Regions from separate parts of the Homo sapiens genome. Here region 1 is linked to region 2. The links come from fine-mapping of genetic effects on gene expression. A gene starts in region 2. The other region holds a variant in brackets. All regions are shown on one strand. Distances are from middle to middle.

Evidence for each region. PIP is the estimated chance that this variant, and not a neighbour inherited with it, causes the effect.
Region 1: its variant is fine-mapped to the expression of MAST3 in whole blood (TOPMed, PIP 0.97).

The regions. Positions count from the first base shown.
Region 1 is chr19:18,168,364-18,176,816 of GRCh38, forward strand. PIK3R2 (phosphoinositide-3-kinase regulatory subunit 2) reads left to right here. Exons shown (of 16, transcript NM_005027.4): 14 at 112-183; 15 at 363-533; 16 at 724-2,169. The coding sequence ends at 931. It overlaps IFI30 (IFI30 lysosomal thiol reductase), which reads left to right and starts at 5,450. Exons shown (of 7, transcript NM_006332.5): 1 at 5,450-5,610; 2 at 6,677-6,859; 3 at 6,948-7,022; 4 at 7,242-7,334. The coding sequence starts at 5,479. RefSeq lists enhancers at 71-220, 2,548-2,767, 5,815-5,884, 6,012-6,677 and a silencer at 5,195-5,504. The variant C/T (reference allele first, on the strand shown) is at 3,162.
Region 2 is chr19:18,094,442-18,102,897 of GRCh38, forward strand. It overlaps MAST3 (microtubule associated serine/threonine kinase 3), which reads left to right and starts at 3,337. Exons shown (of 28, transcript NM_001393504.1): 1 at 3,337-3,390. The coding sequence starts at 3,352. It also overlaps a transcript of IL12RB1 not described here. RefSeq lists a silencer at 3,072-3,581.

The sequences.
Region 1 (8,453 bases), 74 kb after region 2:
TGTACCCAGAACCCTCTCTCCTCAGCCAGACCCTGCCTCCCACCGGACAGGCCCACTGTGGGCTCAGCACCCACACAACTGCACAAGCCCACCTTTCCTGTTCCTTCTCAGGTGGCTCACCCAGAAAGGCGCCCGGCAGAAGAAAATCAACGAGTGGCTGGGGATTAAAAATGAGACTGAGGAGTGAGTGACCGTCTGGAGGGAGGCAGGGAGGGCTTCCCAGAGGAGGGGGCCATTTGGGGTGGGTTTCGAAGAATGAGTAGGAGTTCACCAGGGAGGAAAAGTTGTCCAGGCAGCTGGGGAGCCTCGGAGGCTGGCAGGTGAGTGACCAGGGCCCTCCCCGCCACCGCCCCCCACCCCAGCCAGTACGCACTCATGGAGGACGAGGACGATCTCCCGCACCACGAGGAACGCACTTGGTACGTGGGCAAGATCAACCGCACGCAGGCAGAGGAGATGCTGAGTGGCAAGCGGGATGGCACCTTCCTCATCCGCGAGAGCAGCCAGCGGGGCTGCTACGCCTGCTCCGTGGTGTGAGTGGACCGCAGCGGTGGGGATTCCCGCGTCCCTCCCAGAGCTCTCATTGAATGCCTGCCGCGTGCCAGGCCTTGGGAAGGAGTCCCTGGTGGGGTCATCCGGGACAGGGGAGCACGCGGCCCTGGAACGGGGAAAGCTTGGCGGGGAGGCCAGCCTTCCGACTCCCCCTCTCGTCTGCCCCCACAGAGTGGACGGCGACACCAAGCACTGCGTCATCTACCGCACGGCCACCGGCTTCGGCTTCGCGGAGCCCTACAACCTGTACGGGTCGCTGAAGGAGCTGGTGCTGCACTACCAGCACGCCTCGCTGGTGCAGCACAACGACGCGCTCACCGTCACCCTGGCGCACCCAGTGCGCGCCCCGGGCCCCGGCCCGCCGCCTGCCGCCCGCTGAGCACCGAGGACCCGCCCCAAGCAGAGCCGCCCCTGGGCCCGTCTGCGCCGGAGGCTGCGGCGGCGGGAGCCACGGACCAGACCAGCCACATCCAGGGGTCCTCATTTCTCCGGCTCTGGCTCTTGTTTGGGGTTCTCTCACCCTCTTTCTCTTTCCTTCCCTCCCCCATTCTCCAGATCTCCCTCTGTCTCCTTTTCTCTGTCTTTCTTGGCCCCTGTCTCTCTCCATGTTGGGGGTCCTAACTCCCCCACCCCATATCTACGTGTCCTCCGGGCATTGCCCTCTCCATGGCTCTGGTCACCCTGACCCTCTGCCCTGCCCACCGCAGGTCCCCCGGGGTCCCGGAAGCCCCTTCTGGCTGCACCTGCCATGTTTACAGAGGGCCCCTGGGCTGCGCGGCCCCAGCCTGGGCACCCTGATTTTTAAGCCATAGACCTGGGGTCAGGGCAGGAAGGAACTTCACTCTGCTGCTTCCGAGAACCTCGGCCGTGACATTCGGGGCCGGGCGGGACCCGCCCCACAGACTCCAACTTCCCCTCCAAACCCCGAAGTGAAACCCGCCACCGGGTTACCCCCACAAGGGGGCCGCTGCGAGAAGTTCACCCACCCCCGAAAAAATAATTAAACTCGCAGGCCAGGCACGGTGGCTCATGCCTGTAATCCCAGCACTTTGGGAGGCCAAGACGGGCGGATCTTTTGAGGTCGGGAGTTGGAGGCCAGCCTGGCCAAAATGGCAAAACCCCGCATCTACTAAAATACAAAAATTAGCCGGGCGTGGTGGCGGCCGCCTGTAATCCCAGCTACTTGGGAGGCTGAGGCGTGAGAATCTCTTGAACCCAGGAGATGGAGGTTGCAGTGAGCAGAGATCGTGCCACTGCACTCCAGCCTGGGTAACAGAGGGAGACTCCTCCGTCTCAAAAAAATAAATAAATAAACTTGTGAGCTGGCCCCAACCCCTCCTAGGAATCACAGCTCCCCGTACTGGTGCCGCCGCAGTGGCCAAGTTGCGACACTGCCCACGGCCCCTCCCTCTGATGCAGATTCAGGGCTTCTCTTCGATCATGTTGGGTTTTGATTCTGTTTTTCCTTGACTGCAAAACCCTCTTTCCTCTCCTCTTTTGGGACAAGAGCCCTGGTTTTCTACGCTGCCCTTGGCCACCACACTGCCTGCCCCACGAGCTGGGAGGCAGGTTTTGTACGGTACGTTGTTATTGATATGATATAAAACATCAAACGTCGTGGGTGATTCTGTTGTCAGTGACTGGGCTTCAGTACCACCTCTGCGTGTCGGGGACCCTGGTGTCTACGGGGGTCACAGCAGGTCGGACCCGTGGGTTTAACTCCAAGCCCCTCTGAGACCCGACAACCCCTCCCTCCCCCAGTTTAGCTGCTCAAGCCTGGAGAGGTTGAGGCAGTGCCCAAGGTCATACAGGAGAGAGATTCGAATCCTGAGCTCCCGACTGCTCAGGGGACCCCAGACCCCATCCAGCCCCTCAAGTGCTTCCAAGCTGCTTCCCCCGCCCACCGCCCCCAAATTTGAATCCTGTCGCAACCATCAGCTGTGTCCTTGGGAAAGTTGTATCCCCTCCCTGATCCACAGCTTCCTCATTCATTGCCAAGTGGCGTCAAAAGTCAAAACCCTCCCATGCCACAGGGAGGAGTCTCCCGTGTCTTTGATGTTCTCAAGTCGTCGGCACCTCCAGCCAGCATTGGAGGCTCTTCTCTGACCTCTCCTCACCCACTCCCATGCACAGCCCGCCGGGTCCCAGGAGACGCTGAGCAAAAGCCCTGTGGGGTTTTTTGTGTTTCTTTTTAAAGAGTCAAGGTCTCTCACTCTGTCACCCAGGCTGGAGTGCAGTTGTGCGAACACAGCTCGCGGCTCACAGCCTCAAGCTCCTGGTTCCCAGCCTCAAGCAGTCCTCTCATCTCAGCCTTTAGAGTCACTGGATTACGGGTGTGTGTCACCATGTCCAGCTAATTATTTTTAAATTTTTTTAGAAACAAGATCTTGCCGAGTGCAGTGGCTCACACCTGTAATTCCAGCACTTGGGGAAGCCAAGGCAGGCAGATCACTTGAGGTCAGGAGTTTGAGACCAGCCTGGCCAACATGGTAAAACCTGGTCTCCACTAAAAATACAAAAAAAAATTAGCCAGACATGGTGGCGCATGCCTGTAATCCCAGCTACTTGGGAGGCTGAGATAGGAAGATCAGATGAACCTGGGAGGTCAA[C/T]GCTGCACCAAGCCAAGATCGTGCCACTGTTCTCCAGCCTGGGTGACAGAGTGAGACTCTGTCTCAAGAAAAAAAAAAAAAAAAAGGGTCTTGCCCTTTTCCAGGTGGGTCTCAAACTCCTGGCCTCTAGTGATCCTCCCACCTCAGCCTCCCTGAGTCGCGTAAGCCACCACGCGTGGCCTCATGGCGTCTTTGACTTGGACTCCTGTTTACCACCCTCCCCATCACACCCAGAATCCACACCCCCACTGCGACGTCATTGTCCCTTCAGCCCTCCCCAACCCTGGGGCCTCACTGTCCTTGTCTGTTTTGTACAGCCACCTCTCAAGGCCCAACAAGGCTGAACCTGGGGCAAGTGCAGAAAGAAACCTCCACTCTGACCCAGTCTACTGCTGGGACCTTGGGACAGGACCTGCCTCCCTTAGCCTCAGAGCCCCCTAGCCTTGCCAGGCACTGTCCCTGCCATGTGTCCTGTCTGGAGATAACCCATAAATAACTCCAGCCCAGATTGTGCCTCTCACTGCATAGGTGCTCACAGGAGAAAGGTTGCCATCTTTATGATCCCAGCTATGCTGAGCTGGGGGTGGAAGAGAATATCCCGTGTGGTCTCTAAAAACACTCAACCACTGGCTGTGTGTCCTTGGCAAAATAGCCTTCCCTCTCTGATCAGCCATTTATTTGTTACCAGCTGGAGTCAGTAGCACCTACCCCCAGCCCCAACTGGATGCTTCTGAGGGTTCAATGATAAAATGGGTTGTAGGCCCACTCTATGCCTGGCACCAAGCCAGAGAGCAATACATTGTAGGGTTACATTTATGATTTCTTCCAATAGGGCTGGTGCCTGGTAACTACTGGAAAAATTGTAGCAATTATATTTATGGTTATTTCTTCAATCCCACCCGGCATAGGGTAAGCACCAAAGTTGGGGTGGTGAGTCTTGGGGAGCCTTTGCCAACGGTTTGGTCGTCTGAGGGATGGGCTCGGGGACCATCCAGCCACTGGGACTTCAGAGAAGCTCCGGCTCCCAAACCAGCTACTGTGTGTGTGGCCAGGGTCTTCCCCACAACTAGAGGGGGGCACAGCTGGGGACTCAGGTATATCTTCCAGCTGGGTGTGGGACATTTTCTTCCCTAGGATCCGATGTGTCTTGCCCTGAATGTAAGGCCTGGCAGGGTTGGAATGTCTCAGTTATTCCCCCAACACTCCAGCCTCCATCTGGGCCTTTTTTCCAGGCTATTCTCTCTGCCTTCACTGTTGGGGCCACTGTCCTGTGTAGGCACCAAGGCCTGACCATGCCATCCAGAAGCCCCAGCCTGGGACAACTCTCCCCCACCTGCCTCTGAGCCCTCCATGGTGACTCTTGTTCCCCAAACCTTATCCTTCTCCCCATTACACAGAAGGGAAAGCTGAGGCTCTGTCACTCAAATCCAAAGCCAGGTGGACTCCAAGCCACCCCACCCCTATCCCAGACAGCACAGGCTGCCTCTCTCCCCCATGGGCGTCCCTTGAAGGCCAGGTTGCCCCCCACCCCCCACAAGCCTTGAACGATGAAAAGAAGGAAGGCCAGTTCTCTTCACCCCAAGCCAGAAGTGGGGCTGGGTGGGTACCCTAGAGAAATGACACGCCACTCCCTGCGCCAGCTTCTGCTTTCCGGCGTGGCTGTGGTCAAGCCTGAGTCAGTCCCACGGGACCACGGTGAGGGGTCTGGAGCGTCGGGGTCAGGAGTTTGAGGGGGGAAGGGTTGAGGGGCAGGATGTGGGGGTTGGGTGTGAGGGAGGTCACGGGCGAGACTGGAGGGAGGAGACCTGGCCACACAGGCCTTGCCCACTCTCGGGGGCCTGAATATTTCAGTTACTCCCCCAAAACCCCGGCCTCCATCCCATCCCCAGCCTCCATCCGACGTCACCCCTGTTAGGTCACAGGCCCACTCTGAGAGTGGGTCTCGGGCCTCAAGTCCCCTAGCCGCCCCTAGAAGGTCTAGGGGTGCGTGGAGACACCACCATTCCTCTCAGCCTGTGTCTGTCTCAAAGGCCCCACCTCACCTCCCCTAAAGGTAGTCTTGCGCCAGGGCTCACGTGCCTGGGCAGGGCTGATTGCCAAGGGGCCCAATGGCCTCGTGACTGGGGACCCAGCACCTGGCAGGGGTGGGGGTGGGACACTCAGAGGAAGGAGTGGAGGAGGGAGAGACGCTGGCCCGGGACCCGAGGGGCGTGGGCATCGGGAGGCGGGCCCGGGTTAGGGGCGGGACCGCCGCCTGGTTAAAGGCGCTTATTTCCCAGGCAGCCGCTGCAGTCGCCACACCTTTGCCCCTGCTGCGATGACCCTGTCGCCACTTCTGCTGTTCCTGCCACCGCTGCTGCTGCTGCTGGACGTCCCCACGGCGGCGGTGCAGGCGTCCCCTCTGCAAGCGTTAGACTTCTTTGGGAATGGGCCACCAGTTAACTACAAGGTAGGGACGGCGACAGGGCGGGCAGGCTGGAGGGAACAGGCGCCCTGTCGGGGCACGCGGCTCCTTCTTTCTCCCCAGACTTCACAGGGGAAGACCAGGGCCCCGAGGGGACGCTGTCCCTGCCGGGTTCCTGGAAAAACCCTGTTCAGTTCCCGGCGCTGCGGCCACACTCCCTCCGTGCCGTTTCGCTTTCGCATCCCGCATCTGAGAGGCGCAGCTGCCTCCACCCGCCTAGTCCCGCCCAAGGGTTCAATGAGCGCCTACTGTGTACTTTTGGGGCAGGAGCTGGGGTCTCCTTTTGTGGCCCAGGGCACAAGTTCAGCAGCTGGCCAAGGGCCGCCGGCATGCATTCTTGCTGCTACCCTTGATGCATTCATTCCAGCCAGGGCAGGGCTCGCGTGTCTTTGGGACCTATTAGGCAGATGCCCTAGAGGCTGAGCGACTTGCTCACCGCTCCAGCGACATGGGCCACCCGCCACCCCTCAGCTGAAGCCGGAAGTCAGCACCTATTAGGTGCCGCCTCTATTCAGTCGGACTTGGAAAGGGTTCACGTGGATCCCTTGCTCAGCTCAGAGGCAAGGTCTCCAGGTGAAGTGACAAGAAATGAGCATGGGCCAAGGCCGGAGGCGGTGGCTCATGCCTGTAATCCCAACACTTTGGAAGTCTGAGGCAGGCAGATCACGAGGTCAGGAGTTCGAGACCATTCTGGCCTACATGGAGAAACCCTGTCTCTACTAAAAATACAAAAATTAGCTGGGTGTGGTGGCATGTGCCTATAATCCCAGCTACTCAGGAGGCTGAGGCAGGACAATTGCTTGAACCAGGGAGTCGGGTGTTGCAGTGAGCCGAGATCGTGCCGCAGCACACCAGCCTAGCGACAGTGAGACTCCATCTCAAAAAAAAAAAAAAAAGTCTCAAAGTCAAGATTCCACCTGGCAAGTTCTGGAAGGCGTGCAAGATGAATTGCGTATCACAGCCCCCTTTCTACAAGACTACCAAGTGGGGTTGAGAGAAGTGGGGAACTGCCCAGGGCTACACCTGCCTCCCACGCCTTCCTAATCCACAGACAGGCAATCTATACCTGCGGGGGCCCCTGAAGAAGTCCAATGCACCGCTTGTCAATGTGACCCTCTACTATGAAGCACTGTGCGGTGGCTGCCGAGCCTTCCTGATCCGGGAGCTCTTCCCAACATGGCTGTTGGTCATGGAGATCCTCAATGTCACGCTGGTGCCCTACGGAAACGCACAGGTGTGTGGGCGCTGGGGAAACTGAGGCACGTGGGCAGGGGAGCAGGGGACCCAGCCTACCAGCAGGCTCTCACCCTGCTGCCTTGCAGGAACAAAATGTCAGTGGCAGGTGGGAGTTCAAGTGCCAGCATGGAGAAGAGGAGTGCAAATTCAACAAGGTGGAGGTGAGCGGCCCCAGGGCCCCACACTGGGGTGGGGGAAAACTGTCCCACGTACAGGAGGCAAATACGAGGATGCCAGCTCTGTCTTCTGCCTCGTGTGCTCCCATTTAATCACATCTTTATTCCCTATCTCCTGGGTGGGTACTGGTGATTATTACGAGAGGGTGTCAGGGTACCCTAGGCCCTCTTCATGCCCTCTCCTGCCCCCTCTCCAAACCCCAGGCCTGCGTGTTGGATGAACTTGACATGGAGCTAGCCTTCCTGACCATTGTCTGCATGGAAGAGTTTGAGGACATGGAGAGAAGTCTGCCACTAGTGAGTGACGCCCCTCACTCCACCCAAGGAGGGGGACATGGGTGGTAACCTTCCCTGCATCCAGGCAGACCCAAATTCAAGTCCTAGCCCTGACCACTGCTGTCTGTGCAGCCCAGGAAAACAACTACCCTTCTTTATTTTATTTATTTTTTTATTTTTTCTTGAGACAGAGTCTCGCTCTGTCGCCCAGGCTGGAATGCAGTGGCGCAATCCCAGCTCACTGCAACCTCCACCTCCAGGGTTCAAGTGATTCTCCAGCCTCAGCCTCCTGAGTAGCTGGGATTACAGTTGTGTGCCACCATGCCCAGCTAATTTTTGTGTTTTTAGTAGAGACAGGGTTTCACCATGTTGGTCAGGCTTGTCTTGAACTCCTGACCTTGTGATCCGCCTGCCTTGGCCTCCCAAAGTGCTGGGATTACAGGCGTGAGCCACCGCACCCAGCCCTTTTTTTTTTTTTTTTTTTTTTTTTTTTTTTGAGACAGGGTTTTGCTCTGTCGCCCAGGCTGGAGTGCAGTGGTGCAATCTTGGCTGACTGCAACCACTGTCTCCTCAGTTTAAGTGATCCTCCTGCCTCAGCTTCCCCAGTAGCTGGGACTACAGGTGTGCACCACCATGCCCGGCTAATTTTTGTATTTTTAGTAGAGACAGTGTTCACCATGTTGGCCAGGCTGGTCTCAAACTCCTGACCTCAAGTTATCCGCCTGTCCCAGCCTCCCAAAGGATTACAGGTGTAAGCCACCACGCCCGGCCCCAGCCTCCCCTCTTGAAGCCTCCATCTCTGAATCAGGGGAATGAATGCAGGTCTCTTAGGAGCATGAGTGATCACAGAGGACTTACTGGAGGAGGCATTTCTGAGCTGGGCATGGAAGGATGAGCAGGAATGTGCAGAGACACAGATGATGGGATGTGGAGATGATAGGACAGACCCCACCTACTTCCCCGGGGGATTGTGAAGAATGACTCCCAGAGAAGTGACTCATTGGCTCCAATCATTTATTCATTCATCAAACATCCGGGTCACCCAAGAGGCCTCACCTAGTGACACCCTAGTCCTGCAGGGTTAGATCAGGGCTGAGAGAGTGGCAAGGAGAGGGCACTGAGGAGACACTGTGGAAGGAG
Region 2 (8,456 bases):
TTAATGCAACTATGTCCCAAGTACTGAAGGGGGCATACTTACACTGAAAAAACATTCATTGTTTATGGAAATTTAAATTTAACTGGGTGTTTGCTTTGGAAAACAGCCTGGTTGTCTTTTACAAATTTAAAATATAGAGTTGCTGGGCGCAGTGGCTCATGCCTGTAATCCCAGCACGTTGGGAAGCCAAGGCAGGAGGATCGCTTGAGCCCAAGATTTTGAGATCAGCCTGGGTAACATGGCGAAACCTTGTCTCTACAAAAAATACAAAAAATTAGCTGGGCATGGCGGCATGTGCCTGTAGTCTCAGCTACTCCGCCCTCCAGCCTGGGCGAAAGAGCAAGACCCTGTCCCAAAACAAAACAAAACAACCCAAAACATAGAGTTACACCATATGACCCCGGAAGTCCATTCCTAGGTAAGTACCCAAGAGAACCAAAATATATCCACAAAGGCAGGGGGCGGTAGCTCACACCTGCAATCCCAGCCTTTCGGGAGGCCAAGGTGGATGGATCACTTAAAGGTCAGGAGTTTGAGACCAGCCTGGCCAACATGGTGAAACCCCCGTCTCTACTAAAAATGCAAAAATTAGCTGGGAGTGGTGGCGGGTGTCTGTAATCCCAGCTACTCAGGAGGCTGAGGCAGGAGAATCAATTGAACCTGGGAGGCAGAGGTTGCAGTGAGCCAAGATCCCGCGACTGCACTCCAGCCTGGGCATCAGAGCAACACTTCATCTCAAAATAAATAAATAAAGAAATAAATCTATGCAAAAAGTTGTATGCCAATGTTTATAGCAGCTCTATTCAGAATAGCTACCAAAATGTGAAAAAATCCAAGTGACCACCAACAAATGAGTGGATCAACAAAATGTACATGTACATATATACAATGGAATATTATTTGGTCATGAAACGGAATGAAGTACTGATATTTGCCACAACATGGGTGCATCTTGAAAGCATGATGCTGAACGAAGCCAGACACATAAGGCCACATGTTATGTTTTCATTTTTATGAAATATCCAGCACAGGAAAATTCATAGAACAGGAAGCAGATTGGTAGTTGCCAGGGGCTGAGAGAGGGGGAATGAGGACTGGCTGCTAATAGGTACAGGGTTTCTTTTGGGGATGATACAAATGTCCTGGAATCAGATCGTGGTGATGGTTACACAACTCTGTGAGTATGCTTAAAACACTGAATTTATTGCACACTTTAAAAGCGTGAATTTTATGGTATGTGAATTATATGTCAATTTTTAAAATTGTATGAGAAAAACAAGTTTTCCCTGGCATCCTGTATTTTTATTTGCTCAATCTGGCCACCATAACTTGATGCAATTCTACAGTACCTCATGGACAGTCAGGCCCAGTGACCCTTCCTAGGGTCCCCTCGAGCCTGAAAGCATACTCCAGTGTCCACACTGTACAGTGGGGCAGCCGAAGACAACTGCGGCTGCAGAGAAAGTGCGAGTCCCAGGGAAAGAAAAAATGCAGGTGCTAAGCCAGGCACAGTGGCTCATGCCTGTAGTCCCAGCGCTTTGGGAGGCTGATGCAGGAGCATCACTTGAGGCCAGGAGTTCGAGACCAGCGCGGGAAACATGGCGGTACTCCATCTCTACAAAAAAAACCCAAAAAAATTAGCCAGGCATGGTGGCATGTGCCTGTGGTCCCACCTACTCTGGGAGCTGGGGTATGGGGGCTGAGGCAGGAAGATCGCTTGAGCCCGGGAGGTAGAGGCTGCAATGAGACAAGATTGCACCACTGCACTCCAGCCTGGGTGACAGAGAGAGACCCTGTCTCAAAAAAAAAATTTTTTTTTAAATGTGGGTGCTATTTTGGGACTTTGGGCTTTTCTCAGCCTCAGTTTCCCCTCCTGCAAAATGGAGTAGAACAATTATCTTCAAATATCTGTGAGAGATGGTGTTTATGAGACACTTAGGGCAAAAAGGCAATCATCCTCAAAAAAGAAACTGACAACTGCAGCGGCTACCTGCTTTTGTAAGTAAAGTTTTATTGGCACCAGGGCCAGGATTAAAGGGAGGCAAACAAGGCTGAGTGGTGCAAGGACAAGGGTCTGATCATGTCTTAAGAGTTTTAGTGTTTTGGCCAGGCAAAACACCAAAACTCTTTGGCCTGCAATCCCAGAACTTTGGGAGGCTAAGGTGGGTGAATCACCTGAGGCCAGGAGTTCGAGACAAGCCTGGCCAACATGGTGAGACCTCATCTCTACCAAAAATACAAAAAATCAGCCTGGTGTGGTGGTGGGCACCTGTAGTCCCAGCTACTAGGGAGGCTGAGGCATGAGAATAGCTTGAACCCAGGAGGCAGGGGTTGCCGAGATCATGCCACTGCATTCTAGTCTGGGCAACAGAGAGACTCGTCTCATAAATTAAAAAAAAAAAAAAAAAGTTTTGGTGTTTTGGCCATATGCGGTGGCTGACACCTGTAATCCCAACACTTTGGGAGGCCTAGGCAGAAGGATCTTTTGAGGCCAGGAGTTCAAGACCAGCCTGGGCAACATAGTGAGATCCCCGTCTCTAAAAATAAAATAAAAAATAAAAGTTTTGATGTTTTGTTCATCATAAATGTTTTCATTAATTTTATGTTTTTAAAATATTATTTCTCTTGATGGCTGAGTTTTGTGGGGCCACCTTAAATTTTGCACAGGGGTGAGATCCTCACTCGCCTCACCCTAGAACCCGTTCTGCTGTGTGTACTGGGCACATTTTTTGTTGTTGTTTTGTTTTTGTTTTTGAGACAGAGTCTCGCTCTGTCGCCCAGTCTGGAGTGCAGCGGCGCTATCCCGGCTCACTGTAACCTCCGCCTCTTGGATTCAAGCGATTCTCCTGCCTCAGTCTTCTGAGTAGCTGGGATTACAGGCGCGCGTCACCACCCCCAAGTAATTTTTTTTTTGTTTTGTTTTGGTTTTTTTTGTTTAGTAGAGACAGGGTTTCACCATGTTGGCCAGGGTGATCTCGAACTCCTGACCTCAAGTGATCTGCCCACCTCGGCCTCCCAAAGTGCTGGGATACAGGCGTGAGCCACTGCGCCCGGCCAATGCGCTGGGCATATTGATTAACCTATCTTAGCCTCAGTTTCTTCATCTGCAAAATGGGGCTGAACGATGCTGCCTTACTTCTGAGAGGATTCATGCAAAATATTTACTTCTGCGCTCTGCTGGAGGGGCGGGGCCAGCTCGCCCAGTGGGGGCGGGGCCCTGTGGTCGGGCTCCCCGGGAGGGGCGGGGCCAGGCCGTGTCAGCTGACCGGCCTGGCCAATGGCACCTGGCGGCGGGGCCTGGCAGGCCGGGGCGGGGCCGGGGGCGGGCCTGGCGGCGCGGACTCCCGGGCCATGGACGAGTCGAGCCTCCTGCGGCGCCGCGGGCTCCAGGTGAGGCCCCTGCGCGGGCGGGCGGAAGGCAGAGGGCGCGGCCAAGTGGACGCGGCCTGAAAGGTGCCGGGAGGGGCGGGGCCTTCACGGGCTGTAGGGAAACTGAGGCAGAGGGTGGGGAACGCTCAGATCGCTTCTTTTTGACCACCCGCTTCTCAAAGTGCTTTTTCTCATGGTGGGAAGGGGGAAGGTGCCCCCTTGGACATCTAGGGAAACTGAGGCTCCAAGCGATGGCGTGGGAGGAAGAGGCTGAGGGCTCTGCCCCTCCCCACCAGCTGTTCTAATAATAATGCTAGCAACAGCAGCCAGAGAGCTCACCATATGTTCATGGTTGTTTTAGTCCTATTACTAGCGATGTATTAATATGAGTTCATATGTATTAATACCTCCTTGGGTCGTCGCTGCACCACTGTACACCCTCAGCTCAGCCCTACGACGACCTGGGGAGGTTGGGGCTGTCAGGCGCCCATTTGTCAGAATAAGGAAACTGAGGCTCTAGTCCCGGAAAGCCACTCTCCAGAGGTCGCCTAGCTGGGATTCGATCTGCGCCCTCAACCAGCTCTCTTACGGCACAAGGCGCTGCCAACCAGCAGTGTGACCTGGGGGGAGGGCACCCTTGCTTCTCTGGGCCTCAGTTTTCCAATGAGCCATAGGGTCCTCCTTTTACTGAGTTTATGTTTAGGAGGCTGTGTCATCAGGAGGTAGGGACACAGGCGTCGGGGACAGCAGAAGCCTAAGTTTGAAGCCACACAGGGACTACATGACCCCGGGCAGCCACCCTTTGACTTCTCTGGGCCTCAGTGTCCCCATTATAAGAAAAGAAAAACAGGAATTAAGATTTGGCCATTTTCCTCTGGGACTTAGACCACACCCTTAAGAAGCCACCAAGTTTTCAGGTAGGGAACCTGGGATTCAGCACTTACCCAACGAACATTTATGGAGCGCCTGCTGTGTGCCTGGCTCTGGAGAGGCAGCGGAGTGTTCTGCAACCTCTGGAGCTGCCCTCCTAGAAACCCCAACCTGTTGGGGGAGGTAGACGCCAGAGCAGCGGTGACCCCACGGAGTGATCAGTTGTGATAAGGGACTCACAGCAAGTGAAGGAGGCGCCTGACCCAGTCATTGCTGGGAGCCCTGGGGTAGAGGAGGCAGCCAAGGGTGGCGAGGCATTGCAGCGGGGGGCGGTATTTAGGGAAATGAAAGAGGTTGACAGAAGCTGGAACCTAGGGAGGACTGAGCAGGTGGGGTGGGGGTCGGGGACTGAGGTTAGCTCCGGGCGGGTTGAGGGGGTGAGAGGAATGGGGCCGGCGGGTCTCCAACCTGGAGCCGCACCGGTAGCTGCGGGACTGCGAACTCAGCAGGTGATGGGAAGCCAGGTCGGGAGTGGTCAGGGAAGGCACGGGCTGAGCTGCAGATCAGAGACACCCGGTCTCTGGCCGCGCGGGGGTGGGGCAGAACTGGAGGCGCTGAGGCCAGAGGCAAGAGTGGGGGACTTGGGCGGAAAGGAGGGGGCGGGGCGGGATTGGCGAGCAGCGTGGTGTTGGTGGGGGGGCAGTCCCGCCTCCAGCCCCAGTTAGATGCCAACCCGCCCGCAGCCTCTTAAAATAGAGAAACCGCCTCCGGGTAGGCGAATGGGGGTGCTGCTGACGTCAAGAAGTGGGGCCTGTTCCATGGTGGGGGGGTCAAACATTTCCTGATGGTAAGTTCTATGTTACAAAAGGGGAAACTGAGGTTCAGAGAAGCATAGCCACTGTCCGGGTTTCACAAAGTATAGGTGACAGAGTCAGACAGGATTTGAACCCACGCAGTTCCGGCTTCCTCTCCAAACCAACCCAGCACAGGCGTCCCTCCACGAAGGTGGAGGGATGAGCACGGATTCCCCGACTGAATGAGGGCATTCCGGGCAGAGGCCACAGCACGTGCAAAGGCCCAGAGGCATGTAGCCTTTCTTACCTGTTTATATGGGGAAACAAGAACTTGAACCTATTTCTTAGCACTAGAGGCTGATGGCCAGGACTTAATGCTTCCAGGGCCTTCAGTGCTGATTTTGAAGAGGTTAGACTTTCCCCCTAGGGTGATGGGGAGCTATGGAAGGTGCTGGAGCAGGAGAGGACATGCCCATATTGAGGGGCTGGGAAGACTCCTCTGGAGGGCTAGGAGCAGGAGTGGGGGAATCAAAAAGGGCAGGAAGCCAGGAAGGAGCATGGAATGAAAGTCTAAGTGTACCAGGTGTGGTGGCTCATGACTGTAGTCCCAGCTACTCAAGGAGGCTGAGGCAGAAGGATCTCTCTCTCTCTCTCTTTTTTTTTTTTTTGAGAAAGAATCATGCTCTGTTACCCAGGCTGGAGTCCAGTGGCGCAATCTCGGCTCACTGCAACCTCCACCTCCCGGGTTCAAGTAATTCTCCCTGCCTCAGCCTCCCGAGTAGCTGGGATTACAGGCACATGTCACCACGCCCGGCTAATTTTTGTATTTTTAGTAGAGACGGGGTTTCGCCATGTTGGCCAGGCTGGTATCAAACTCCTGATCTCAGGTGATCCGCCCACCTCGGCCTCCCAAAGTGCTAGAATTACAGGCGTGAGCCACCGCGCCCAGCCAAGAAGGATCTCTTGAGCCCAGGAGTTTGAGGCTATAGTGAGCCATGATCACGAGACCCTATCTCAAAAATAAAAATAAAGGTCCAAGTGGAAGAAGATTAAAATAATAATAAAATAATAGTAAAGTGGGAATAACCGTTCATATTAACAGGCTAAGCCCTCTCATGCATTCAATTCTCCCAACAGCCCGAGTGGTCAGTGCTATTATTAGTTCCACTTTTCAAAGGAAGAAACTGAGGCCCAAAGAGGGAAGTACCCACCAGGAAGCCAGAGAAATTCTAACCAATCTGGCACGTGAAGGTGTTGTCTTCATCAGCCCCAGTTTGGGGTCTCTTTTGACTGGAAACCTTGTTAATGGTCCAGGAGCACCCCAGCCAATCAGGGGGTAGATCGCTGATGCGAGCCAATCAGATTTCCTGGAGGCCAAAGGCCAAAGAGTCCATTCACAAACGGGTGCTGACCGGCCAATCCAGACGCATAGCCCAGGGCGTCCTCTCCGGTGGTGACAATGTGAGGCGTGCTGTTGGCTGTGTGCAGGAAAGGTCTGAAAAAGGATCCGGCCTGGCCCGCGGGCGGCCAGTTTGCGACAGCCCTGGGTCCAGGGAGGAGGTGGAGACCTTCCCAATTTGGGTTAAACTCAGCCTCACGCATAACGTGTGCAGGCACCGGGTAACGTGAGCTGTTATTACTACTACTACTATTATCTTATTACATTTATCATCTCCTACTTGGACCTTTGCTTTACACATGACCGAATTTCAAAACACCAGGTCCCACAAACAGAGCATCCCCCGGCAGAGAAGGGCTAGAGCCTGTATCTGGACTTTTGTCTCTGCCGCTACTGGGGTGGCTCCTCTAGGTTCAGCCCTCCAAGGTGATCCTGCTTTCTCATGGACAGCTTCCACTTATTTTCCTCCTCCTCCTCCTCCTCCTCCTTCTCCTTCTCCTCCTCCTCCTCCTCCTCCTGGAAGCCCTGGGGCTGGTGCCATGTGGTCCATGCTGACTTCTCTCCCATTTAATTCCAGGGGCATCGAACTTCCAACCGGGCTTGGTGCCCAGCAGGCTGAGTCTCACCTCCCTTTGCACGTGCTGTTTGCTGGGCATGGACTGGTGTTTTCCATGTGCCTGCAGGCTTTGTTTGACACCCCCTACTCCAGGAAGCCCCTTAGCTCTCCTCTCTGTGTGCCTCCAACCCCTCTTCTCCCTTTGAGTCTCTCTTTTTTTAGACAGGATCTTGCCCTGTCGCCCAGGCTGGAGTGCGGTGGCCCAGGCTGGAGTGCAGTGGCGCCATCTTGGCTCACTGCAGGCTCCGTCACCTGGATACAAGCGATTCTCACAGCCTCAGCCTCCTGAGTAGCTGGATTACAGGCGAGCGCCACCACACCCGACTAATATAATTTTTATATTTTTTAGTAGAGATGGTGTTTCACCATGTTGGCCAGAATGGCCTCAAACTCTTTTTTTTTTTTTTTTTTTTTTTGAGACGGAGTCTTGCTCTGTCGCCCAGGCTGGAGTGCAGTGGCGTGATCTCCGCTCATTCCACCTCCCAGGTTCATGCCATTCTCCTGCCTCAGCCTCCCGAGTAGCTGGGACTACAGGCTCCTGCCACCACACCCGGCTAATTTTTTGTATTTTTAGCAGAGACGGGCTTTCACCGTGTTAGCCAGGATGGTCTCCATCTGCTGACTTCGTGATCCTCCCACCTCGGCCTCTCAAAGTGCTGAGATTACAGGTGTTAGCCACTGCGCCTGGCCTTTTTTTTTTGAAACGGAGTTTCACTCTTTCGCTCTTCTTGCCCAGGCTGGAGTGCAATGGCACGATCTCGGCTCACCGCAACCTCTGCCCCCGAGTTCAAGCGATTCTCCTGCCTCAGCCTCCCAGGTAGCTGGGATTACAGGCATGCGCCACCACATCCTGCTAATTTTGTATTTTTAGTAGAGACGGGGTTTCTCCATGTTGGTCAGGCTGGTCTCGAACTCCTGACCTCAGGTGATCTGCCTGCCTCAGCCTCCCAAAGTCCTGGGATTACAGGCATGAGCCACTGCGCCCGGCCACCTTTTTTTTTTTTTTTTTTGAGACGGAGTCTCATTCTGTCACCCAGGCTGGAGTACAATGGTGTGGTCTTGGCTCACTGCAACCTCCGCCTCCGGGGTTCAAGGGATTCTCCTGCCTCGGCCTACCGAGTAGCTGGGACTACAGGCGCCTGCCACCACATCCAGCTAATTTTTGTATTTTAAGTAGAGACGGGGTTTCACTATGTTGGCCAGGCTGATCTTGAACTCCTGACCTTGTGATCCGCCCACCTTGGCCTCCCAGCGTGCTGGGATTACAGGCGTGAGCCACCGCACCTGGCTCAAACTCTTGATCTTAAGTGATCCTCCCGCCTCAGCCTCCCAAAGTGCTGGGATTACAGGCATGAGCCACAGCACCCAGCTGCTTCGGGTCTCTCTTAATCCCTCCAGTATGGGGGTG